Homo sapiens: one gene and its partners. The protein of the gene in region 5 interacts with the protein of the main gene of each other region in a pairwise test. Each region holds a gene or a part of one and is shown on either strand. Other genes may lie near its edges. The genes, in order: CETP, CMC4, BNIP3L, PRUNE2, EWSR1, CFAP298 and MVK.

Region 1 (3,500 bases), on a different chromosome or scaffold from region 5:
GTGCTAGGATTACAGGTGTGAGCCACCACGCTGGCCCACCAACCTATTTTTGATCTAACTTTACCTCTGGTGGTGTATTGATACTCTTCCGAATCAATTTTCACCCTTCTTCATATACCATTTACATTTCTAAGAATTTGTCCATTTCATTTCATCTAGTTAACCTCATTTGTTGACATACAATTGTTCGTAGTATTCTCTCATAATTCCTTTTATTTCTGTAAGACTGGTAATAATGGCCTTGCTTTTATTTCTGTTTTTAGTAATTTGAGTCTTCTTCTTTTTTTTTTTTTTTGCCAGTCTAGCTAAAGGTTTGTTGATTTTGTTGATCTTTTGGAAAAACCAGCTATTGTTTTCACCGATTGTTGTTTTTGTTCTATTATTTCATTCATAGGCACTAAGATCCTGATTACTTCCTTCCTTCTGCTAGCTTTGGGCTTAGTTTGCCCTTATTTTTCAAGTTCCATAAGGTGGAAAGTTTGATTATTGAGTTGAGATCTTTCTCTTTTTTAAAGATAGGCATTTCTAGATATAAATCTCCCTGTGAGCACGGTTCCCTCCATCTTCAGCACACCAGGGTTGACTCTCTCCGGGCGTTCTTCCCTGGTCACCTCTCCCCTTCCTCTCCTCTTCTGCCTCCTCTTCCACTTTTCGGTACCCTGTGATTGTATTGGGACCACCCAGATAACCTAGGATCATCTCCCCACCTACCCCAAGGTCCTTAACTTAACCATACTTTCATATGGGTAACACGAGTTGAGTGTGGTACCCAGGGTTTGACATGTTGGGTAACATATTTGCAGGTTCTGTGGATTAGGAGGACATTTTGGGGGCCATGATTCTATCTTCCACCCTCGCCTAGACAAAATTGGAGGCTCACTCCTTGGGCTCCCTGGATGACCCCCAACATCCTTCCTCACTTCCATTCCTTCCCAGCATCCAGATCAGCCACTTGTCCATCGCCAGCAGCCAGGTGGAGCTGGTGGAAGCCAAGTCCATTGATGTCTCCATTCAGAACGTGTCTGTGGTCTTCAAGGGGACCCTGAAGTATGGCTACACCACTGCCTGGTGGTAAGCATTCCTGTCAGCTGATGCCCCATGCCCTGGCCCTCTCTGGGCTGGAGGGCTGAATGAGGGTCCTGGGTCCTTGGCTCTTTCCAGGCTGGGTATTGATCAGTCCATTGACTTCGAGATCGACTCTGCCATTGACCTCCAGATCAACACACAGCTGAGTATGTGTCAAGCGTCCTCTGGGGAAGTGGGAGCTGGACTCCAGGGCTTGGCCTCAGCAGAGGGGGAGGTTGTGCAGGCAGAGGGTTCTGGGGCCACCAAAGGAGGCCCAGCCTGGGAAGTTTGCAGGGGTGGGGACCCCAGAGCTGGCCAAGCTCTTGACTGGCCTGGGCAGCATGTGGATACCATCTGATAGCGGAGGCTGCCCTGAGGTCATGTCGGGTCTCCCTGCAGCCTGTGACTCTGGTAGAGTGCGGACCGATGCCCCTGACTGCTACCTGTCTTTCCATAAGCTGCTCCTGCATCTCCAAGGGGAGCGAGAGTAAGTACACCACCCTGTGGCCCCCATTCCTGCTCGTGCCCATCCTGTTAGTGTGTCCACGGCTCCTTCCAGGCTCAACCCCACACAGGGCATGCTTGTGGGTGGCCAAACCTGAGGGCAGCAATACCTTCAGTGGGGTCACTTCCTACCCCCTCCCATCAATACACCCTCAAAGGCTGGAAACAACAATAACCAACAGCTAGTAACTAACAGCTATTAAGAACTTGCTGTGTGCAAAGCACTATTCCAAGCCCTTTTCATGAATTAATTGATTTTGTCCTTAAAACCAACCCTAGGATATAGATTCTGTTATCATCCCCTTTTTACATATGGGTAAACTGAGTCACAGAGAGGTTAGAAAGGAAAAGCTCATATCTACGGAGTGCATCCTGCATTCCAAGCACCACACTAACTCAGAGATAAAACTCTAGCCAAGCTAAGTAACTTGCTGAGGACACACAACTCGCCACTAAGGGATGGGAGTAGGATTTGAACCCAGCATTCTCTGACCCCAGAAGCTGAGTTCCTAGATACTTTACTCTCCTGCTTCCCAGGGTGGGGCTTTTTGTCTTGGCCAACACCCTCTGTCAAGGAGCTGTGGGTAACCCCATTGCACAGAGGAAGATAACAAGGTTTGGAGAGTCCCTAGTCATGTTACCAATGCCAAACCTGGAAGGCAGAAGGGAACTGGTGGGTGGGGTCTGGAGAGGAGCCCTCTATTCAGGCCATTTTCTGACTCTGGAGCAGACGGATACATGTATGAATTTGGACTCTAGACACGTTCTCGTGTGTGTGACAGGTGTGAGCGTCACAGGAGCTGGGCCCTCCCGAGGAATTCTGGGATGGTGCCACAGTTAATTCTTGGGTCTGAGGCTCCGTGTTCTCAGCTGCAAAATGGGAGTGATAATTCTTACTTCCTGAGCTACAAGAGTCAGGGCCAACAGAGCCATGAACGGTGCCTGGTACACACTAGGCGCTCCATGGATGCACAGGACTGGTCAGGGGCTCATTGTGGTGCTTGCTGCCTTCAGGCCTGGGTGGATCAAGCAGCTGTTCACAAATTTCATCTCCTTCACCCTGAAGCTGGTCCTGAAGGGACAGGTGAGTGAGGCTGGCTGACTCCCTGTGGTCCAGGGCCATGCCCAGGAGGCTGGATCCCTTTCCTCCCTGCCTTTCCCTGAGAAGGTGCCACTCCCACCTTCTCCATGTGGCCAGTCCCCTGTGCCGGTCCCCAGCACTGCCACCACCACGCAGCTGGAAGGAGGCACTGCCTCTGGCCTCCTTTCCTGCCTGGAAAGCACCTGCTCTGTCTGCCCCAGATCTGCAAAGAGATCAACGTCATCTCTAACATCATGGCCGATTTTGTCCAGACAAGGGCTGGTGAGTGCGTTTCTGTCTGCATGCCTCAGAAGACAGCAGTGGGAGCCAGAAAGCCACCTGCTGCACTATGTGGCCTTGGGACTGTCACTCTTCCTGTCTAGGTCCCATGGGCTCTATCTGGCTCTGACACTTGATGATTAGTTATGAGCATACTTTGGCAAATCTCTGCCCCTTTGGGCTGCAGCCTCACAAGCTGTGTGGCGTTGGGCAAGTCTATAGAACTCAGGACAAATGGGTGATTAAGTCCAAGAGGACTCCAAGATTCTCCTGGAAGTAGATTAGGAAAAAAGATAATTAGATTGCTCACATGGCTGGGCACTCATCCATGTACTGTACTCTCCTATGCAGTACAGAGCAGAGCTGGGTTTCAGCCCAAGTCTTGGACTCTGCTCTGAACCAACCTTCTAGAAGGGCTCTACCTACCCAGACAGACAGACTTGGGAAAAGAGAGAATGAAAAAGTGCCACACCCCTCCCCGCACACCCAGGTCCCACTTTACAGAGGGGAACACTGAGGCTGGAGGGTTGGGTAGCTGTGTGGATGCAGGGGAGCGGTGACTCAGGGCAAT
Region 2 (3,500 bases), on a different chromosome or scaffold from region 5:
ACCAAATATTGCTGATTCCTAGGAAAACATTTACTACTTGTAAAGAATTTCCTGAGTTAAAGTAGTTATAACAGTTTATATACATTAAAAGTAAGGTTTTACTTTAAAAAAAAAAGTCTTGGGAATAATAGCTACCATGTATTGGAGTCCTTTCCAGGCACTATTGTATGTACTTTATATACTTTATCACATTTAATCCTCCTGTCAATGCTTTGAGGTAGGTATGATTCCCATTTTATATATGAGTAATAAAAAAAGCTCAAGGAGTTTAATCATTTATCAAGGGTTTCTTCTGCGAATGATAGAGCCAGGCTGCGCCGTCGGCTCCTCTAGCCTAACGTTGGTTTACAGTATTCAAAAAGAGTTGATTGAATTCAAGGTTTTTTTTCCATGTAAAGCTATTTATATCTTCCAAGCCTAATGAAATGGATATTATAAAAATACAGTTGATTCATCCTATGTTTGGGAAGAGTATTTTTAGTGTAATTATTTTCCAGCAATTGTAAGGGCATATACTGCTTGTCTCAGAAGAAAATTCCACGTAGAGGGGCTTTAAAGTCTTTATGGAAAAAAGAAAAATAAAAATCATTTTTCTTGTTTTAGTTTTCTGGATATGCCGCAGAAGGATCCGTGCCAGAAGCAAGCCTGTGAGATACAGAAATGTTTACAAGGTAGTATATTGTAAAATGCTTTAAAAATATTTTTCCACTGTGAACTAACTATAAGAGACCAATTATTCTTTTATCTGTATTAACTCTTTTTTAAGAATGTAACGTATATGTAATTATCCTGAAGATTCTCTTCATTGTATCATCAAAGATGCAGAAAATAAAAAGTAATGTGATCAAAGCTAGGGGTTTTCACTCCAGGTGATTAGCATCACCTGGAGATCTTTAAACACTTACCTAGAACAATTCAGACTTCCTAGGGCTAGGGCTAGGAAAAAAAGGGTTTTTTGTTGTTGTTGTTTGTTTTTACTAAAAGGCTAGTTTTAAATTGGTTGGTTATACTTCACTGCAGCTGACAATTCACTTTTTAAAAGCAATCTGGAAGAGGTGCGGTTGAAATAACAATTGGAATTCAGGCTGCCAAAGTCATCAACTAACTCTTAAAGGCAGAAGTGAATCTCGACTAAAGCATATTTGAGGTGATTTGTCCATTTGTCCAGCTGCTAAGTTTGACCAAATGTTAGAGGATTTTAGTTTTCTAATCAGTGAATGACTGTTGCCAGAAGAGCAAATAGAAAAAGCTATAAGGCTATCTGAATTTGAAAAAATTTTAATAAGTTTTCCTCACTAGTAAAGTAATAGATGGAGATGGAAGGTCATGAAAATATAGAAAGGTATGAAGGAAAAATGTTCAGAGTTCCCCCAAAGATTCACCACCAAAGAAATCCTTTGTTTGTGTATCTCCTTGGACTTTTAGCTTTCATTCTTGGACTTTTCATTTTTTGATGTTAGCAATATTTTATAAAATCTTTTAGATTAAAATCTGGATGTATAATAATGCCATTTTAGTCAAACTTCTTCCCTCCAACTTTAAGGAAAAGGAAAAAGTTTTTTGCATTTAATTCCTTCTCCCAAATAAAACCTTACCTTGTTTGAAATAACCCATAGCTAAGGGAAAAAAATAAGTTAAAAAGAGCTGGTGACACCCCCTTGGCAGTGTGGGAGGATTAAGAACTGGAAAGACTAAAAGATGACAAGCACCGTTATAAGGACTTTATACGTATTAAGCCTTTCATCCATGAGGTAGATGCTACTATGACCCCCATTTCATAAAGGGGAAAACAGACACACAAGTTATGTAATTTGACTAGGGTCACATAGCTAGTAAGAGGTATGGTGGGAATTTGAACACCCCCCGCCAACCCCGCCCTTGGTCTAGCTCCAAATCTGGACTGTTACCCACCTTGCTATACTGCCTTTCTAATCAGAATTGTCTTTCCTATCCTGAGCTAACTACCATGTACTCCATTTTAGTACTGGGGGACTCATTAACTGCAGCTGACCTAGAGTCTTTAGGTCAGGTCCTCCTTAACTTAGTGTTTATGTATAGTAGGGATCTGCAAATGTTTTATGAAAAAGGCCAAACAAGTAATATTTTAGGCTTTGGAGGCCAAAGGCCTTTGTTGTATATATTGTGTATGTGTTGTGTGTTTACAACCCTTTAAAAATTAAAATCCATTTTTAGCTCCCAGCTGTAAAAACCGGCTGAATTTGACCCTAAGGCTGCAGTTTGCCAATTCCTGATGCACAGCCTTAGTAGGGGAGGTCCAACAATCAGCTTAAACTGTATGCAAAATAATGTGTGGTGTATGTGCATTTTCCTAATTCATCAAATTAGTGACCAGTAATAAAAATGATGTTAAAAACCAATGTCCTAGAAAAAGGTGCATACATGCTATTAACCTTAAAGGAAATTATATATTAAAATAGCTTTCAACCACTTTGTAAATCATACTTTCCCTAACGAACCTGTCGACAGGTCTCTAAATTAGAAAGAATTCAGTGGACTTTGGTATATCTTCTTTCTTCCAGTTCCATAGGTACTGAAAGTGAAAAGGGGTGGGAAGCACTGATCTAAACCTCCCTGTACCTTAGTCCTATGAGATCATGACTAGAGTCTGCCTGTATGTTTTTCAGCCAACAGCTACATGGAATCAAAGTGTCAGGCTGTCATCCAAGAACTGCGTAAGTGTTGTGCTCAGTATCCCAAGGGAAGATCTGTCGTCTGTTCAGGATTTGAAAAAGAAGAGGAAGAAAACCTAACACGGAAGTCTGCATCAAAGTAAAGTTCTTCTGAAGTGCTGCTCCATGTTTCCACCAAATGAATTTTTTTTATCCTCCTGACTCTTCAGGCCAGGTAGCAGCAAATAGCAAATGAAAAAGTCAGCTACAAAAGTTAATGAATATGCCATCTATGCAGAACAGGCAGAAATATAAACACATTAAAAGACAAATATGTAGAATGTAATATACTGAGCTGCTAAAATAAACCTGTTTAAGAGAAAAATTTGGGTTTTGTACTAAATGTATTTTAAGACTATTAGATATAGGGTATTAATGAATTCTCTTGAAGTTCAAGCCACTAGTGCCATTCATCAAATTTAAGTCATATGAGGTATGTTAGGTGAAAGGACTCACTTCCAGCATCACAATTTTGACGCCCTTTTTTTTTTTTTTTTTTTTTTTTTTGAGATGGAGTCTCACTCTGTCATCCAGGCTACAGTGCAATGGTGCGATCTCGGCCCACCGCAACCTCTGCCTGCCGGGTTCAAGCAATTCTGCCTCAGCCTCCCAAGTAGCTGGGATTATAGGCATGCACCACCACGCCTGGCTAATTTTTGTGTTCTTAGTAGACGGGGTTTCACCATGTTGGTCAGGCTGGTCTTGAACTCCTGACCTCGTGATCTGCCCGCCTCGGCCTCCCAAAGTGCTGGGATTACAGGCGTGAGCCAATTTTGATACCTTTTATAGATTACATGCTAAACTAATTCA
Region 3 (3,500 bases), on a different chromosome or scaffold from region 5:
AAACAGGAGAAGAAATGTACAGATTATCTTGCGTTTGGGATTTTATCTTTGGTTCAGGGGTCAAAGCAGGGTTTCAATAGCAAATTACTGAAGTATTTGAATAGTGAAGTATTTTTGTGATTTTTTTTTAACTTTACCGCTGTGGAGAGACTGTTCACTTTCATTAAAAATTACAGGGCAAATACCCAAACTCCTTCCAAGTCAAAAGGATGTTGTCCAGTTTGTTTTATTGTTAAGAAAACTATCAACTTCCTTAAGAATGTTTGAATAAGATTCAATAGGGCCGAATAAGGAAAATCAAAGTAGTAGTGTAAATCGTAGTATAATTCTTGTTGTTGAGAAGTATAGCCTTTTTTTTCTTTTCAAATTTTCTTGTTCTTTTTTGTTTTTTGTTTTGTTGAGACAGGGTCTTGCTTTGTCACCCAAACTGGAGTGCAGTGGTACAGTCATAGCTCATGGCAGCTTAGACCTCCTGGGCTCAAGTGATCCTCCTGCCTCAGCCTCCCAAGTAGCTAGGACTGCAGGTGTGCACCCCCACATCCAGCTAATTATTTTATTTCTTGTAGAGTTCGAGTTTCACTTTGTCACCCAGGCTGGTCACCGGCTAACTTATTTTTTGTAGAGATGGAGTTTTGCTTTGTTGCCCAAGCTGGTCACAAACTCTTTTTTTTAAATAGAAACATCTTCAAGCACAATGTCCTTGCTTTCTTGTTATGAAGAGTGCTCTTAAGGCCTTCATGGATTGTCACTGCCTCATAATAATGTTTTGAATACCTACGTAACTTGTATGTAAATACATACTGCTGCAAAAAGACCAACTTTTCAAAAATTTATTTATTTATTTTTTTATTTAAGAAGAATGCCAGTAACTCTTGTTGGCCTGGTCTGGATTTCAGCATCAGGTTGGCCTGGTCTGGATTCCTTTCAATAATGAATGAAAAGCTTTGAGGAAAGAATGTAAATATAATGAAATTTCAAAAGAGTTACATGTGGGCCTTGAAAAGTTAGGGGGAAAGATGAGGAGAAATACTCTTCATTCTCTCCTCCCCTTGTCCCAAAGCTCCTCTCTTCTTCTTCTTGCAAGAGGATTGAACTAGTGATTATAAAACTGTAAAGATTATACAACATACGGCAATGAGTATAATCACAATTATTGGACCACCCTTCACAGTCTATTATGTTAGAGAACGGAGAAGCATTCACAGAAGTTTCTCTGAATCTCTTAGTCATTCCCAAAAACCCAAACCAGAAAATATCTCATGTCATTGTATGTTATGTACAAATTGGCATAAGGAACAGCTCTTAGTTTGTAAAGTCTTTTAGATAATGGAGAAAGCTTCCAGCTTTTAGTTTTCAAGCTTGATCATTAGGAGGAGAATTCACTCTGTGGTTGTTTTCTACTTTGTGTTGCTTGGACAGCACAAACCTCTTATCTAGCCTTGTTTCCTTTCCAAGTAAAAAGGGACTTTGTGAGGATTGGTAGAGTTAGAACACTAAGAAATTCTGAGGCTGTAAATCAGGAACAAATCGGGTGATGGGAAACAGACGTGTTGTTCATCTATTGAGGAAGACACATTTGCTTTTTTATGTGTTACTCAAAAGATTAATATGTAGCCTCTTAATGCCTGTGTACATAACTTTCTCTGTACCACTATGTATTTCCATAGATGATATTTTTGAAAGAGAATTACCCTTAATTAATTAAAGGAAATCTACACTTTTAAGGCTGTTAATACCTATTGTCAAATTATTCTCCAGAATGTTCACTGAAGCCCTAATTGTAATAACAAAGTATTAGAAACAACCATCTCAGTAGTAGTTAACCATTGCCATTTAGATAATGGTTAAAGTATGGTATATCTTTATAAAAGATGAGATGCAATGCAGTTGTTCAAAAGAATGAATGTCAGTATATATTGATAGGGAAGACATCTGAAAAACGACTTACAGAATATGTCAGTATGTGTGTATGGTACAGTTCCATTTCTTTATAAAAACAAAAGCAAAAACAGACCTATATTTCATTGACAAAAACTCTGCAAGTCTCCATGTGAAACTGTCAAAAGTGGCTCCTTTGGGAGTAGGAACGGGAGGTTGGGAGAGATGTTAATTTTTAATTTTATGTACTGATGTTTACGTTTTCTAGGAACACATTTTTCCAGTAAGGAATGGTTTTTCTATGATATAGAATATAATTGTAGTAGCTAAAACTTTCTTAGGGACCTTTCTTATTGTTCTGCGTGCTATATTCATTTAATCCTCCTAACAAAGTCTTCGAGGTAGATACAGTTATTATCTCTATTTTATAGATGAGAAAACTGAGGCACAAAGAGGTTAAGTACCCTGTGCGAGGGTAACAGCTATAACTGAGAGTGGGAGCCTGGCTTCAGTCTCAGCCCCTGACCACACTATACCAGTGTATCCCAAGTACAAATTGTCCGCCTTAAGTAGAAATGCTTTCAGTTATGATTCAGGGTGTGGAGGCCACAGCAGAGATCACTTTTACTAAGCTTTTCTAGGTATGTCTCTTTCAGGTTCCAAAAGTATATATTGGATTATGATTGCTTATGTGTTTTTAATGAAGAAAATAGGATCCAGACATTGATTTGAAAGTCCTTCAAAAAAGTAAAAACCAGGTTGGGAGCAGTGGCTCATACCTGTAAGCCCAGCACTTTGGGAGGCTGAGGTGGGAGGATTGCTGAAGCCCAGGAGTTTGAGACCAACCTGGGCAATGTAGGGAGACCCTGTCTCTACTAAATAAATAAATAAATAAATAAATAAATAAATAAGTCGGGCATGGTGGCATGTGCCCTGTAGTCCCAGCTTCTTGGGAGGCTGAGGTGGGAGGATTGCTTGGGCCCAGGAATCAAGGCCGCAGTGAGCTGTGATTGTGCCACTGTACTACAGCCTGGGTGACAATGCAAGACTGTCTCAAAAGAAAAACAAAAGTAAGGACCAGAAAACCTGATATTGTTTGTTACACCCTTTTTTCTCTTCGATTGCCTACTTCAAGTGAATATTAATTGTATTTTAGGGAAGACTGACTTCCACAGAGACCTATCTGGAACTCCTGGTTCCTTACCTCTGCTTCTGTCAGAGCAGCTCTGGGTTTTGGTTTGTTACTATTGTACACATTAGGCTTCTATACAAGAAGAACTGGTCCCATTGGTTTAAAAATAAGTTTGAAAATCCTAGAAACAGTGAGAGTCAGAAAAAAAAACTGTTTTTATATACATATTCTCTCCCCCACCCCCTTTCTCTCCAGTTGAAATATGTTGCAGAGCTCTAAATTTAGGGATGCTTTTGGCGTATTTCTTATACACTCCAGAGGCACTCGAGATAAATTATCTTCAATGTTAGATCTCTCTTAGCTTTGCTAGTTGTATTTGTTAATCCATTTTGAGTTCTCTAGCCTGTGTCCATTTTATGTGTGTATAGAATGAGGCCATGGAGATGTTGTACAACTGTGTCGTTTGGCAGCAGAGTCCTAAGGAATTGGT
Region 4 (3,500 bases), on a different chromosome or scaffold from region 5:
GTTTGTGTAGTTTCCCCATCGTAAGTCATCATCTATTACAGCCTCTGGCAGCCACCTCCCTTTCCATCATCCCCTTCTGAGAAAACAAGGTTGGTGAACACTGTGTCAAAGTGCACATTAAATAATAACCTCAATGATGGTAGCTAGCATTCATGTGTTTTGCTATGCTCCCAGCATTTCTGTGAATGATTTACAAGTATCATCTCGCAAATAGCCTCAGAGATTGCACTTAGGGAATTTTCCTGTGAGAAAAGAACTAACTGATGATAGGTTTTCAATAATCAACTTTAGTTGCCTTTGCCCAATTCCTAGTTTTGGGGTAACTTTGGGTTGGCTGATGTGCCAGGGAAGTGACCGTGGACATAAGAACTGTTGCACTTACAACGCATCCTGTCCTGAATTGTGGAAGGATGTTCATACTTGCTTCCTTCTTGAATCCTTTCATCGCTTTCTTTTCTCCTATTTCCCCTCCAATTCTGCCTCCACCTTCCTTCTTTCCTTTCTTCCCCTTTCCTTCACTTCTGTGTGTATCGTGAGCATAATCAACAGTTTTCTGGGGCGCTGCTAAACCAGCAGACTGGAGAGCCAAAGTGGACTTGACACAACCGAGAGCTGTGTTCTAACCCTGGATCTTCTCCTGCCTAGACCCCCTGACATCGGTCAATCCATCAAAGTGGTATTTAAGGCCACCAATAAGAGAGTGGCAACAGTGAAGAAACTACAAAACCAAATAACCTTGGTGGCAAATAAGAGGCATTTAAACTCTTTTAAAAATGCATTCTTGTTCTTAACATTTCACCAAATGATGCCCATAACATTTCTAATTACTCTAAAAGCTAATCACACACATTCTCCTCCCAATCGTTTATCAGTTAATTTTCTTTCAAATGGGCATGCAGTGAGAACAATCTCACAATGTATTCAACCAAATCTCAGATGGCCTAACACCATGTTTTTCTCATAGCAGGATTTCAGTAACATTGGTTGATATTCTGTTGTCCAAAAGATTTTAACATAAAACAAGCAACACAGAAGAATGAACCCCTCTTGGGTCAGCGTGAACAATATATGTGCAATTTCACTAACTTACCACTCAGCCCTCCTATAAACTTGTCAAGCTGTTCACTTTTAATTTAACAAGAATGAAATGTTCCAGGAGATCTTGGGGGAAGAGGTGCTTATGGTATGAGGAAGAAGGTCCTAGAATTGAAGTCAGGTGATCCGGAAGCAAACTCCAGCTCTACTCTTTGTGGCTATGCAACCTTAGGCAAACCTCTTTTTTTTTTTTTTTTTTTTTTTTTTTTTTTTTTTTTGAGATGGAGTCTCGCTCTGTCATCCAGTCTGGAAGGAGTGCAGAGGCATGATCTCGGCTCACTGCAACCTCCACCTCCCTGGTTCAAGCAATTCCCCTGCCTCAGCCTCCCAAGTAGCTGGGATTATAGATGCACACCACCACGCCCAGTTAATTTTTTTGTATTTTTAGTAGAGATGGGGTTTCACCGTGTTGGCTGGACTGGTCTGGAACTCCTGACCTCAGGCAATCTGCCTGCCTGGGACTTCCAAAGTGCTAGGATTACAGGCATGAGCCACTGCACCTGGCCTGGGCAAACCTCTTAACCTCACTGAGCCTCAGTTTTGGCAACTGCAAAAGGAGATTAGTACCTACCTTACAAGACCATTGTGGGAGTTAAATCAAATTTTAAAAGTATCTCTTAGAGCTAAGACAGATATTCCACAAATTCTAACTGAATTGCAAGACAGCTAAGAATTGTTCCTGTTTCTGTGAAATGTAAATAGGGCTTCCTGGCTCTTGTTTGCTAGTGGCCTTTTCATGTTTTTATTACTGTGCCTGGAGATCACGTCCTCGTCTCAGGGCATACACACATGCAGCAGCCCTGTGAGGCCAGTGCTACTACTGTTCTCATTTACAGATGATGAAACTGAGACCCGGGGAGGCTAAGAAACTAAGATTGTGTGACTAGCAAGTAAAAGTGGCGGGGTTAGGATTTGAAATCAGGCACTGGCTCCACATGATTAGCCGCCCGGCTGTACTGCCTTTAGGGGGCAAGAAGTGGGAAGGAGGACAAAAGTCCTTCTAAGGGTCTCCTAAATCCACAACTCATACTCTAGGAAAATCTCCCAGGATCTGATTTAGGGCAGGCAGCCTCTGCCAGGGACTGCCTCACAGTTCCCCATTTATGGGCTCAGATATAAGGAAGTGTGGCTATTGCTGCTCTCAGGGAGGTCAGCAATCATCAAGGATGGGAACACAGACAATCTTTGGACTGTGTTGATGTTTCCTTTCAGCTACTTATTCTGAAGTCCCACACTATATTCTCCATTACTACAAAAAGCTAATTCTCAAATTTGAGTAGATGAACCCTGAATTAGGCCAGACTGGTCACCAATATATACTCAAGATCATATATATTATTATAAGATGTATTTATTTATTCTTGACAGTAACCAAAAGGATAACCTACTTATAATAAAAGTGCATATACATTAAAGTAAAAAAATTAAAACAACTATAATGAGATTAAAACTAAGTAGTAACAATTAAAAAAACAAAACAAAAAAAACCTTAGTTCGGAAATCCTAGGCTAAGAAAATGAAGCACCAACATAGCTTTAAGCTTCTGGGAAGCCAAAGCAAGAAATATCAAATGCATGGAGCCAAAGATATGCAATTTTCCTAGACATCATCAGTTCAAAAAGACTCTGGCATTACAGGCTAAAACAAATAACCTGGGAAGGTCTGGTCACATCCAGGAGAGTTAGATGAAGTGGAAGACCATGATCACGCTCCACCACAAACAGTCCCACTAGTTGGACGAGAGGTCTGACTCAGGATCATGCATGGGTTTACCCCACACATGAGGTCTGCAGTGCCAGGGCTGGACAGGAAGTCTGGAATGCCTAATCTTTTCTCTCAAGGACTCTGAACAGCTTCCCTGCCAATCTCTCTCATGATATTAGCACTGGTCAAGGGGCAGCAAGAGACTAGGCTGGGCTGACTTGGTACAGTGGTTGGCCTTGGGGGAGCCCAACTTCTAGTCTTTGAGCCACATGGAGGAGAACCTACGGTTCCAATGGTTCCACTGTTGGCTGATCTACCCAATGCAGTTTTGCAGAGGCTTTTAGTGCCCCATTCCTCTCCTCTGCCTCTCTCCATTCATGCTTTAGTTCAACCAATATTTATAGATCCCAAGCAGTCATGCATAAAAATTAGATTTTTATTTTGTCTTAACACTTTGTATTAAGTACTTACTGTGTATGAAGTACAATATGGTGCTCCTTGACTTTAGTGTCCTTCACCTTCTTCTAGCAAACAAATATGGCTTCCTGCCTCCTGACAATAGCCTTTCTTCAGATTCAGACCTCCAAAAATCTAAACCTGGCCCTCCGTTTATTTATTTTTATTGAGCCACTACAAAGTGTCATGCTTTGTGCAGGACTCTTGCCTTTAGGGTTTATTAATTCTAAAACCACTCTTTGAGC
Region 5 (3,500 bases):
TGATATTCTTGCTGTCAAGGACAGTTTGGGAAATCCTATGTGAGCATCTACTCATAATTGCCTTAAGTGAAGTAAACCAAAAGTTTGATAGCATTCTTCTTAGTATGCTTGGTAGTTTTCTTAGATTTATGATGAATATCCTTGGGCAGTAGTGATCAGGTAGTTAAGAAACCCCTATAGATACATGATAATAATTCTCCTGTCTTGTTGTCTCTGAAAGGCCCACCTGTAGATCCAGATGAAGACTCTGACAACAGTGCAATTTATGTACAAGGATTAAATGACAGTGTGACTCTAGATGATCTGGCAGACTTCTTTAAGCAGTGTGGGGTTGTTAAGGTCAGTAAAAGCATAACCAGGTCATCTGGCAGAACTTTAAACCACAGAGCATTTTAAAGAGATTGAATTGATGTTGAGAGTTGTTTTCTAAGGTTGCCTTTGCCTGACTTCTTTCTAGGTATCTTATGGTTTGTTCCTTTTTAAAAAAGATTAGCCTTTTTTTTTTTTTTTTTTTGAGACGGAGTTTCCTTCTTGGTGCCCAGGCTGGAGTGCAATGGCGCAAGTCTTGGCTCACTGCAACCTCTGTTCAAGCGAATCTCCTGCCTCAGCCTCCCAAGTAGCTGGGATTACAGGTGTGCGCCACCAGCTAATTGTGTCTTTTTAGTAAAGATGGGGTTTCACCGTGTTGGGCAGGCGGGTCTCAAACTCCTGACCTCAGGTGATCTGCCCACCTTGGCGCCTCCCAAAGTGCTGGGATTACAGGTGTGATCCCCTACGCCCGGCCTTCCCTCCTCCACCCCTAGGGACAGAGTGTTGCTCAATCTCAGCCTCCCAGGTTCAAGTGATTCTCCCACCACAGCCTCTTGAGGTAGCTGGACTTATAGGCACATGCCACCACACCCAACTAATTTTTATATTTTTAGTGGAGATGGATTTTTGCCTGTTGGCCGGGCTGGTCTCTAACTCCTGGCCACCTCAAGTGGCCACCTACCTCAGCCTCCCAAATTGCTGGGATTACAAGCATGAGCCACTACACCCAACCTCAAATTATTGTGTCTTTATGCTAATTCTTCATAGCTAGTAACGCAGATTTTTTCTTCAGGGATTTTGACTGTTTTTCAGTTCTTGCTCTTCTGTATTAGAGTTAGTTTATGAACCCCATAAACCTCAAAACCTTAAAACCCCAATTGAATATTTACTAAATCTATGAAGTAATTTCAGGAGAATTTACATTTTTATGATACTGAGTGATCTTTTTTTCCCCATGAAGATTTTATTTCTCCATTTATTTGTATATTTATTTGCTTATTTATTTACTGAGACAGTCTTGCTGTGTCACCAGGCTGGAGTGCAGTGGCACGATCTCGGCTCACTGCAGCCTCTGGCTCCTGGGTTCAAGCGATTGTCCTGCCTCAGCCTCCTGAGTAGCTAGGATTACAGGTGCCCGCCACCACACCCAGCTAATTTTTGTATTTTTAGTAGAGATGGGGTTTGGTGAAACCATGTTGGTCAGGCTGGTCTTGAACTCCTGACCTCAGGTGATCTGCCGCCTCAACTCCCAAAGTTTTGTGATTGCAGACATGAGCCACTGTGCCTGGCCTGTCTCTATTTGTTATTTTATTTTACTTTGAGACAGAGTCTCACTCCTTCACCCGGCTGGATTGCAGTGGCGCAGTCTTGGTTTACTGTAACCTCTGCCTCCCGGGTCTCCTTGCCTCAGCCTCCCGAGTAGCTGGAATTACAGGCGCCTGCCAGCACCCCTGGCTAATTTTTGTAAGTAGAGATGGGATTTCACCAGGTTGGTCAGGCTGGTCTTGAACTTCTGACCTCACGTGATCCACCCACCTAGGCCTCCCAAAGTGCTGTGATTACAGGTGTGAGCCACCACACCCAGCCTATTTAGATCTTCAGTAAAGACTATCGATTTCCTTAAAGGTCTTGCAAATTTTACTAGTTTTACTTCTAGGTTTCGTTTATTTTCAAGTTGCTGTGGTTAAGGGTCTTCGTTAAATGACACTTTTCTGGTTATTACTGGTGTATAGAAATACAGTTGATTTGGCCGGGCGCGGTAGCTCACGCCTGTAATCCTAGCACTTTGGGAGGCCGAGGCGGGTGGATCACGAGGTCAGGAGATCGAGACCATCCTGGCTAACACGATGAAACCCCGTCTCTACTATAAATACAAAAAATTAGCCAGGCTTGGTGGCGGGCACCTGTAGTCCCAGCTACTCGGAGGCTGAGGCGGGAGAATGGCATGAACCTGGGAGGCGGAGCTTGCAGTGAGCTGAGATGGCGCCACTGCATTCCAGCCTGGGTGACTGAGTGAGACTCCGCCTCAAAAAAAAAAAAAAAATACAGTTGATTTTGGGCGGGCGTGGTGGCTCATGCCTGTAATCCCGGCACTATGGGAGGCCGAGGTGGGTGGATCACGAAGTCAAGAGATCGAGACCATCCTGGCCAACGTGGTGAAACCCCGTATCTACTAAAAATACAGAAATTAGCCGGGTGTGGTGACACGCGCCTGTAGTTGAGCTACTTGGGAGTCTGAGGCAGGAGAATCAGTTGATCCCAGGATGCAGAGGTTGCAGTGAGCTGAGATGGCGCCACTGCACTCCAGCCTGGCGACAGAGCAAGACTCCATCTCAAAAAAAAAAAGGAAATACAGTTGATTTTGGTAAATCTTATATAAGGTGATTTCTCCCTGCTTGTAGGTGTGTGTGTGCACAGATATCACACACACCTCAAAAGTAAAATGCTTTTAGTGTCTACTGTCACATTCTACCCTGTGCAAGACTCCTTGTTTGCTTTTTTGTTTTGAGATGGAGTCTTGCTCTGTTGCCCAGACTGGAGTGCAGTGGCACAATTTCAGCTCACTGCAACCTCCGCCTCCTGGGTTCAAGCCTCAAGCCTCTTGAGTAGCTGGGAGTACAGGCTTGAGCATATTAAAAAGACTGCTTTTTAATATGTATATAACATGTAGTTTATTGAGGAATGTGGAGTTTATCCTGGTTAAGAAAGTAGTATTTACCATCAAAATTTTGGAAATAAAGATGTTAAAATAGATTTCCAAGCTGGATACAGTGGCTCACATGTGTAATCCCAGCACTTTGGGAGGCCAAGGCAGGAGGATCCCAAGGATTGCTTGAGCCCAGGAGTTTGAGACCAGCCTGGACAACAGAGTGAGACTCTGTCTCACAAAAAAGAAAAAAATGCATTTCCACATTATTCATACCACAGTTTTGCCATATTTTCTTTTCAGTTTTTAGGTATCACGTTCCTTTTTTTAAGTCAGAGGTATCAATATATATATCCTGTTGTAATCTTTTTTAAGTCCTATAAATAGATTGCTCTTGTGTTACTGGATATATGTAAACAATTACAGACTAAACTGATCGTGTGCATATATAATGCAAAAAAGTACACGTGAAGATATTCTTATACAAGGTAGCTCCTGAATTCAAGTCAACCACATCTGATATTCAGCTGAAAGACTAGTCATC
Region 6 (3,500 bases), on a different chromosome or scaffold from region 5:
TGAATTGACTGGCAGGACCCCCAGTGGGCATCAGAATGCAAAAGGCTACAGGAGAGCCTTAAAGAAAGCCACAGCTGTGGAAGTGAAAGGAAGAGGTGGACTTAAGAGGCATCATGGGAGCAGACGGTACAGAACCCCACTTCAAACCTAGAGGTGACAGAAGGGAGAAGTGTTGAAGATGACACTGAGGATTTGCCCTATAAAACCAAGACACTGTGGTTCTGTTACTGGAAACAGAGAAGCTCATAGGAGGTGCTGATTCTCAGGGACAGAACAGAGAGGGAGAGGAGTGAGGAAGCAAAGAGCTCATTTCTAGAAAACTGGACTTCAAAGTGCTGACTGGGTGTTCAGATAGAACCATCTCACAACCAGCTGGAAATTCAGGTTGGAAGTGAAGCAAGATGTCAGGGGGAAAGGATGGAAGCTTCAGAGTTATCTGCAGAGGGTGGAATTTGCATTTGGCAGAGTAGATAAGATACTGAGAGAGGAAGAAGACCAAGGATAAAAAGTACTTTCAGAAGTACACAGGCAAAGGGGAGAAGTGAGGCGACCGAGAGAGGAGTTCCACAGCAAAGTGTGGGGAGAAGGGTGCAGAACAACAGCCAGACCACTGTTTTCTTGCCATGGCCTGAGACGTGCTCACATGCCTAGATGCCATCACCACGCAAACGACGGGCTCAACCAGGGCCTCTCCTGTAGAGCTTCATAAAGCCTTTCCTATATTAACAGGCACAGAGCTTCAGGGCAGCCTTTGCTGAGGCTCTTCAAAGATTAGTCAAAAGCTTGGTAAGTTTGAGAAATATTGGTTTAAAAATAACAGTTCTGCTGAGCAAACCAGGAGAAGCAGAAGAAAAAGTGGTGATCAGTCAAGAGACTTGCAGTTGAGAGCGGTAGCAACTAATATCACCAACACACAAATACAAGCAACAGATACAGATACCACTTCTTTCAATAGCCTTAAATTCTCTTCCTCCAGATACACATTATCTGTATATCAATGGTATAAATTTACGCTCCTCCCTCTATAAACTAGCCTTTGTATAAAATGCTGAAGACAATTACAAAAAACCATTTATATCAAATACATATTAAGTCAATCAAGTGTCTGGAGAGCTACTCGATGGCCACAATATTCAAATCTCCCCTACTTAACTTTGTTAAGTTCTTCAAAAAGGTAAAAGAAATGAAATCAACATTTGTATTATACATATTTGTATTATACGTGAACCTATATTTACATAAGCCAACAAAAATTTGTGTCTGCCTGGAGGAACGGAGAGGCCTCTGGGCAACCGTCAGGATTATGAAAGGAAAAGCTACAGCCTACCCCAAATACGCTTGTTTCCTTTGCCTCCGGAAGGCTGAAAGAGAAGGCTGGCTGAGAGGCAACTCTGGAAGCCAGAGTTGGAGTTTTATCTCAAAAGACAAGTTTTAGGCCGGGCGCGGTGGCTCATGCCTGTAATCCCAGCACTTTGGGAGGCCAAGACAGGCGGATCACCTGAGGTCAGGAGTTCGAGACCAGCCTGACCAACATGGAGAAACCCCGTCTCTACTAAAAATACAAAATTAGCTCGGCATGGTGGTGCATGCCTGTAATCCCAGCTACTCGGGAGGCTGAGGCAGGAGAATTGCTTGAACCCAGGAGGTGGAGGTTGTGGTGAGCCGAGATCGCACCATTGCACTCCAGCCTGGGCAACAAAAGCAAAATTCCATCTCCAAAAAAAAAAAAAAAAACCCAACAAGTTTTAGTGCATCATTTAAAAAAGCCAACCTTAGATATTATTGCTTTGGCTTCTTCTATAGTCTTCTTTAACACTTGCTTCATCTTCTCATTTGGAGCTATAAAAATAAAAAGGAGAGAGGGAGAAAGAGCTGTCAAATACAAAGCCTCTTCTGAAATACCTCAATCCCCTCTGTCTGAGTCAGGGGGTAAATGAACTGAGAGAGAGTGCGAGTGTGGAATTTAGGGAAGAGAAGCAAGAAACCTGGCTGCCGGAAGTTAGGTGAAGACCTCTTCCCAACAGCAGAGACCTGGAGTGTGCTTTACGCAAAGTGGCAAAGGCTACAAAAAACAGAAATGCATGTCGTTGGGTAAACAGGGCCGGTGAACTTTTTCTGGAAAGGGCCAGAGAGTAAAATTTGAGGCTTTGCAGGCCACACAGTCTTGTTGGGTGGGATAACTCAGCTCTGCCACGTAGCACAAGAGCAGACAATACTTAAATAACTGGGGTAGCTGCGTCTCCTTACAATTTTATTTACAATAGGCAGCTGGCTAAATTTGACCTGTAGCCCATAATTTGGTGACCCCTAGATCAGGAAAAAATAATAACTTGAAAGCTTAGAAGCCAAAAAAAAAAAAAAAAAAAAGAAGAAGATGGAATGCCCAAACCTAGGGAAAATGGGGCAAGTTGAAACCATACATTCCTAGTAAATAACAGTATTAATTAGACATTGAAAATATTAGAAACACAAGATTGTATTATAATAGAAGTGGTTAGGCTGGGCGTAGTGGCTCACGCCTGTAATCCCAGCACTTCGGAAGGCCAAGATGGGTGGATCACCTGAGGTCAGGAGTTCGAGACCAGCCTGGGCAACATGCTGAAACCCTGTCTCTATGAAAAATACAAAAATTAGCCGGGCATGGTAGCAGGCATGTGTAATCCCAGCTACTCTGGAGGCTGAGGCAGGAGAATCACTGGAATCCGGGAGGCAGAGGTTGCAGTGAGCCGAGATTGTGCCACTGCACTCCAACCTGGGTGACAGAGTAAGACTCTGTCTCAAAAAAAAAAAAAAAAAAAAAAAAGGTGGTTAATTTAAGAACATATTACATATTGGTTTAATGATGAATAATGAACTGTTAACTGGTTCTCATATTTTTTTTCCTCATCTTACCACATCTTCTTACGTAAGAAAGCTGTGGAAGACAACCATTTTTCAGGTTAACATTGAAAGGAAAAAATACTAGGAATTCTTACTATCCCTGATATTTAAAAAAATGTATTTTTGAGCTGCTAAAGGCCTTGCAGGAATACTGTTCTTTTACTCCTAACAGTGTTTTAGGGCTGTTCAATTACAGTGTTTTAAATGGCGCTTTTAATGCAGGTTAAAAAGAATAAGCTATCAAAAAGGATTATCATCAATTCCACATGATCAGCCAAACACTGAAAGGAGAGGAATTTCCTCAGTGTTTTGCCGTGTACTGAAGTGCTCTGCCCCAGAGAGAAGCATGTCCTTGATCAGGGAAGTCCATGTGCTGACATGCTTTCCCTTTCCTCTTTCACACAGTCCATCTCGAAAGATCCCCCAACATTTGCGAACAGTAACAAAACACAACTCTGAATACATTGCGGTGAGGACCTGCCAACAATTATTAGGTGGAAACACATGAAATTGCCAATACTCAACCATTTTTGAGCTACAGAAGGGAAAGGGTCATTTCATCTGGTTCGTCGAATACATATAAAAGCAAGCTGCAACTTATTAAAGAGCAAGACAAAAGC
Region 7 (3,500 bases), on a different chromosome or scaffold from region 5:
AGTGTCATGGATTTGTTTGTATTTGAATACTGATCGCTTTCTGACCTTCACTTTCTCCATTAGACTCTAAGCTCCAAGAAGTCAGGGACCTTGTCTGTTTTGCTCCCTACTAGGAGCTTAGTCACAGGCACATAGCAGTTGCTCAATAAATGCTGAATGAATAAGTGAGTGTATCTTGTTGGCACCATTAAGTTAGTAGCTAAGAGCTTGGGCTCCAAGTCAGCAGATGTGGTCCTGACCCAGCAGTGAGTAGCACTGTGATCTCCAGGATGCTGTTTGACCCATCCAAGCCTCAGTTTCCGTTTCTGTAAGAAACAGGATAATTATTATACCTTCCCTGTAGGGCACAATTGGGAGGATTATGAACCATTTCTCAATGGTCCATTTGAGAAAGCATTTAGCACAATGTTTGGCACATGCTAATCAATAGTATGTTAACTGATGTTAACTCATTATTAATCATAGTCTCACAGCTACCATGTGAGTTGCCAAGTCCGTAAAAATCCTTATTTGGCAGATGAAGAAAGAGACTCAGAGCAGGTAATTGACTTGCTCAGGGCTCACAGCAAGTAAGTGATTGAACCAGGCCCCCAGGCGCTGTGACCCCAGACGGCCTATTTTGAGGGGAGCACATCCTATCTCCTGGGCATTACACAAAGCACTTGTGTATTTTTTCCATCTCAATATCCTCAGTGAGATAGACACTATTATCCCTGTTTTATGGATGAGAAAACAGGGTTTAAGGTGAAGCAGTTGCTCACAGATGCCCAGTGAGTCAGTGATAGGATGGGCTCCAAAAAGGGCTCACTGGCTGGGCACGGTGGCTCACGCCTGTAATCCCAGCACTTTGGGAGGCTGAGGTAGGCAGATCGCTTCAGGTCAGGAGTTCGAGATCAGCCTGGCCAACACAGCAAAAACCCATCTCTACTAAAAATACAAACATTAGCCAGGCGTGGTGGCAGGCGCCTGTAATCCCAGCTACTCGGGAGGCTGAGGTAGGAGAATCGCTTGAACCCAGGAGGCAGAGGTTGCAGTGAGCTGAGATCGTGCCACAGCACTCCAGCCTGGGGGACAAGAGCGAAACTCCATCTCAAAAAAACAAAACTAGGCTGACTGCTTACTCCATAACTCTGCCACTGAGCCACATCATTCTCAGAGGTCAGAAAACCACCTTTAGCTTCTGCTGTTTCATGAGGAAGGGAATCTGCAGAAAGGAAACAAAAGCTGAGAGAAAAGAGTGGGGAAGTGGGGTTGATCATTTTGTCTTGTTCCATACTCATGTGTTTTGGGTCTGTTCATTTAAACTGTTTGTGAGCCCACACCTGGTCCATGGAAGGCAGTGAGGCCACGTGCTTGGGAGAGATCCAGACATGGTTGGGACGAGCCTGGCCCCTCCAGGGGTCTCTGGGGCTCCTGGGATTTGAATTCATAATGATCGTGCTTTGGATCTACTTGCAGGGCCCTGGGAAAGAGTCACACCTCTGCCCGTTCTTCTTAAAGGCAGGCTTGGTTCAGGTGTGGACGCTTATGCAGAGGTCTGTTATAGTGGCAGTTGCCACCTGCTGCTTGTGGACACCTTGCCATCATTAGACACACATGCAGCTAGCCTCTGAGGAGGGTGGGGGTTCCAATTCTCCAGGGAAGGATAATGAGGCTCAGAGAGGTTAGATAACAGGCCCAGAGTCACTCAGCTAGTAAGAGGCAATGCAGGGGCCAGGTGCGGTGGCTCATGCCTGTAATCCCAGCACTTTGGGAGGCCAAAGCGGGCGTTCGAGACCAGCCTGTCCAATATGGTGAAACCCCGTCTCTACTAAAAAATACAAAAATTAGCTGGGCGTGCTGGTGTGCACCTGTTGTCCCAGCTGCTCGGGAGGCTGAGGCAGGAGAATTGCTTGAACCCGGGAGAAAGTGAGCTGAGATTGCACCACTGCACTCCAGCCTGGGTGACAGAGTGAGACTCCGTCTCAAAAAAAAAGAAAAAAAAAGAGGCAAAGTAGGACCACGGGAGTCCAAAGCCCAGGCTGTTTTGACTGCGCCAGGTGGGCTTCAGAGGGAAGGGCGCACACTTGGCACGCTCCGTAGCTGGAGAGGTTCAGAGTGGACTTGTTCTTTCTGAGCTCAAGGGCCCAAGCTCCTATGCCCCTTGGCCTGCCCAGCACAGCCCCAGGTGACCCCTCCCCAGCCCCACTCCTCACTGCCACAGTAAAGATGAACATCTGTGTCTTCAGGTGGACCAAGGAGGATTTGGAGCTAATTAACAAGTGGGCCTTCCAAGGGGAGAGAATGATTCACGGGAACCCCTCCGGAGTGGACAATGCTGTCAGCACCTGGGGTAGGTGTGGCCTCAGGTTTATTTTATTGTTGTTATTTTAAAAATTCTTATTACAATGGTAGGTGCCCAAGAGTCTGTGCTGGTTTGGGAGGAATCGAATCAATGGATTCTGGAAAAAATAGCATTTTCCTATTTTGGGGGGAATGGGGAGAAATCTTGGGGCCCTGTCTCACACCCCCTGAATCAGAATCTCCGGGGGTGGAACTGGGGCCTGGGAAGCTGCAGCTTCCACGAGCTCCCCAAGAGAGTTGTAGGTTCAGGATGCAGAGCCGTTGCCGTGGAGTTTGCACACCATCCAGGTGGCCTCCCCTCTGGCAAGAACTCTTGCTTACAGGGCCCAGATGCTGTGTCCTGGGCCCCACCTTCACCATGTGGCTTGTCGGGGGAAGCTGGACAGTCTGGAGGGAGGGGGACCCAGGAATCCAAGGCCTGGCAAGAGCTTCCTGGTGGGGCTTCGGGGACCTTTTGCCCTCCTGCACCTTTTGTAACTGAAGCTGGGCTGACTCATTACTTAGCCTCTTTCCTGAATGGGGCAAAATGAACCCAACCCAAAGTTCAACCTCTCTCCCAAGTAGCACAGATATGTTAGCTTTTCCCACAGCTCTGACCCACTGGTTTTTCTCTTTAGGAGGAGCCCTCCGATACCATCAAGGGAAGATTTCATCCTTAAAGAGGTAACCTGGGGGTGGAGCAGCACATTCAGCCATGGCTGCATTGATGTGTGCAGGGGGCAGAGCTCTGCACCTTTGGGAAGTACCATAGGAGGCAGGTGTCCCTGGCTCTTCATCCCCCAATGTGGCCCTCACAGTGCACTAGCTGCAAGGAAGCAGGGGTGGTGGGGAAGACCTGCTCTCTCCTTCTCCCCTTCAGCTCTTAAATTGCAGAGATATCAGAAAGGGAAAGTCATGCATGGCTGTGCCCGTAGACTCTCAGCTGCTCATTCATTCATTCCTGTATTTGCTTAGTAAACAAGAATCCATTACTTCCTGTGTTCCCGATGATGCTGCACTGGGGCGTAGGAATGGAGAGATGAAGCTTGGGTACAGTTTCCAAGGACTCTCAGTCTGCTTGTGGGGGTGGGGCCAGACACACACAAAAGCCGCCACAGGACAATGTGAGAGTCACCATGATGGAGGCACACAGGGCAGAGGCAGGATGGAAGCGGGAG

Evidence for each region.
Region 1: the proteins of EWSR1 (region 5) and CETP interact in a two-hybrid assay, tested with the Homo sapiens proteins (one large-scale study listed by BioGRID and IntAct).
Region 2: the proteins of EWSR1 (region 5) and CMC4 interact in a two-hybrid assay, tested with the Homo sapiens proteins (one large-scale study listed by IntAct).
Region 3: the proteins of EWSR1 (region 5) and BNIP3L interact in a two-hybrid assay, tested with the Homo sapiens proteins (one large-scale study listed by BioGRID and IntAct).
Region 4: the proteins of EWSR1 (region 5) and PRUNE2 interact in a two-hybrid assay, tested with the Homo sapiens proteins (one large-scale study listed by BioGRID and IntAct).
Region 6: the proteins of EWSR1 (region 5) and CFAP298 interact in a two-hybrid assay, tested with the Homo sapiens proteins (one large-scale study listed by BioGRID and IntAct).
Region 7: the proteins of EWSR1 (region 5) and MVK interact in a two-hybrid assay, tested with the Homo sapiens proteins (2 studies listed by BioGRID and IntAct).

What each region holds. Positions count from the first base shown.
Region 1 is NC_000016.10:56,968,450-56,971,949, forward strand, and holds part of CETP (cholesteryl ester transfer protein isoform 1 precursor), read left to right. Parts: intron 1-936; coding exon 937-1,071; intron 1,072-1,161; coding exon 1,162-1,232; intron 1,233-1,464; coding exon 1,465-1,552; intron 1,553-2,583; coding exon 2,584-2,653; intron 2,654-2,871; coding exon 2,872-2,932; intron 2,933-3,500. UniProt on the Homo sapiens protein: Involved in the transfer of neutral lipids, including cholesteryl ester and triglyceride, among lipoprotein particles.
Region 2 is NC_000023.11:155,061,137-155,064,636, reverse strand, and holds the end of CMC4 (cx9C motif-containing protein 4), read left to right. Parts: exon of another isoform or gene 1-603; 5' UTR 604-613; coding exon 614-671; intron 672-2,645; coding exon 2,646-2,794; 3' UTR 2,795-3,015; downstream 3,016-3,500.
Region 3 is NC_000008.11:26,386,054-26,389,553, forward strand, and holds part of BNIP3L (BCL2/adenovirus E1B 19 kDa protein-interacting protein 3-like), read left to right. Parts: intron 1-3,500.
Region 4 is NC_000009.12:76,896,115-76,899,614, forward strand, and holds part of PRUNE2 (protein prune homolog 2), read right to left. Parts: intron 1-3,500. UniProt on the Homo sapiens protein: May play an important role in regulating differentiation, survival and aggressiveness of the tumor cells.
Region 5 is NC_000022.11:29,292,268-29,295,767, forward strand, and holds part of EWSR1 (RNA-binding protein EWS), read left to right. Parts: intron 1-220; coding exon 221-339; intron 340-3,500. UniProt on the Homo sapiens protein: Binds to ssRNA containing the consensus sequence 5'-AGGUAA-3'. Might normally function as a transcriptional repressor. EWS-fusion-proteins (EFPS) may play a role in the tumorigenic process.
Region 6 is NC_000021.9:32,605,878-32,609,377, forward strand, and holds part of CFAP298 (cilia- and flagella-associated protein 298), read right to left. Parts: intron 1,840-3,500; coding exon 1,772-1,839; intron 1-1,771. Other genes in the region: CFAP298-TCP10L (uncharacterized protein LOC110091775), read right to left, coding at 1,772-1,839. UniProt on the Homo sapiens protein: Plays a role in motile cilium function, possibly by acting on outer dynein arm assembly. Seems to be important for initiation rather than maintenance of cilium motility.
Region 7 is NC_000012.12:109,583,794-109,587,293, forward strand, and holds part of MVK (mevalonate kinase), read left to right. Parts: intron 1-2,228; coding exon 2,229-2,332; intron 2,333-2,960; coding exon 2,961-3,006; intron 3,007-3,297; coding exon of another isoform or gene 3,298-3,372; intron 3,373-3,500. UniProt on the Homo sapiens protein: Catalyzes the phosphorylation of mevalonate to mevalonate 5-phosphate, a key step in isoprenoid and cholesterol biosynthesis.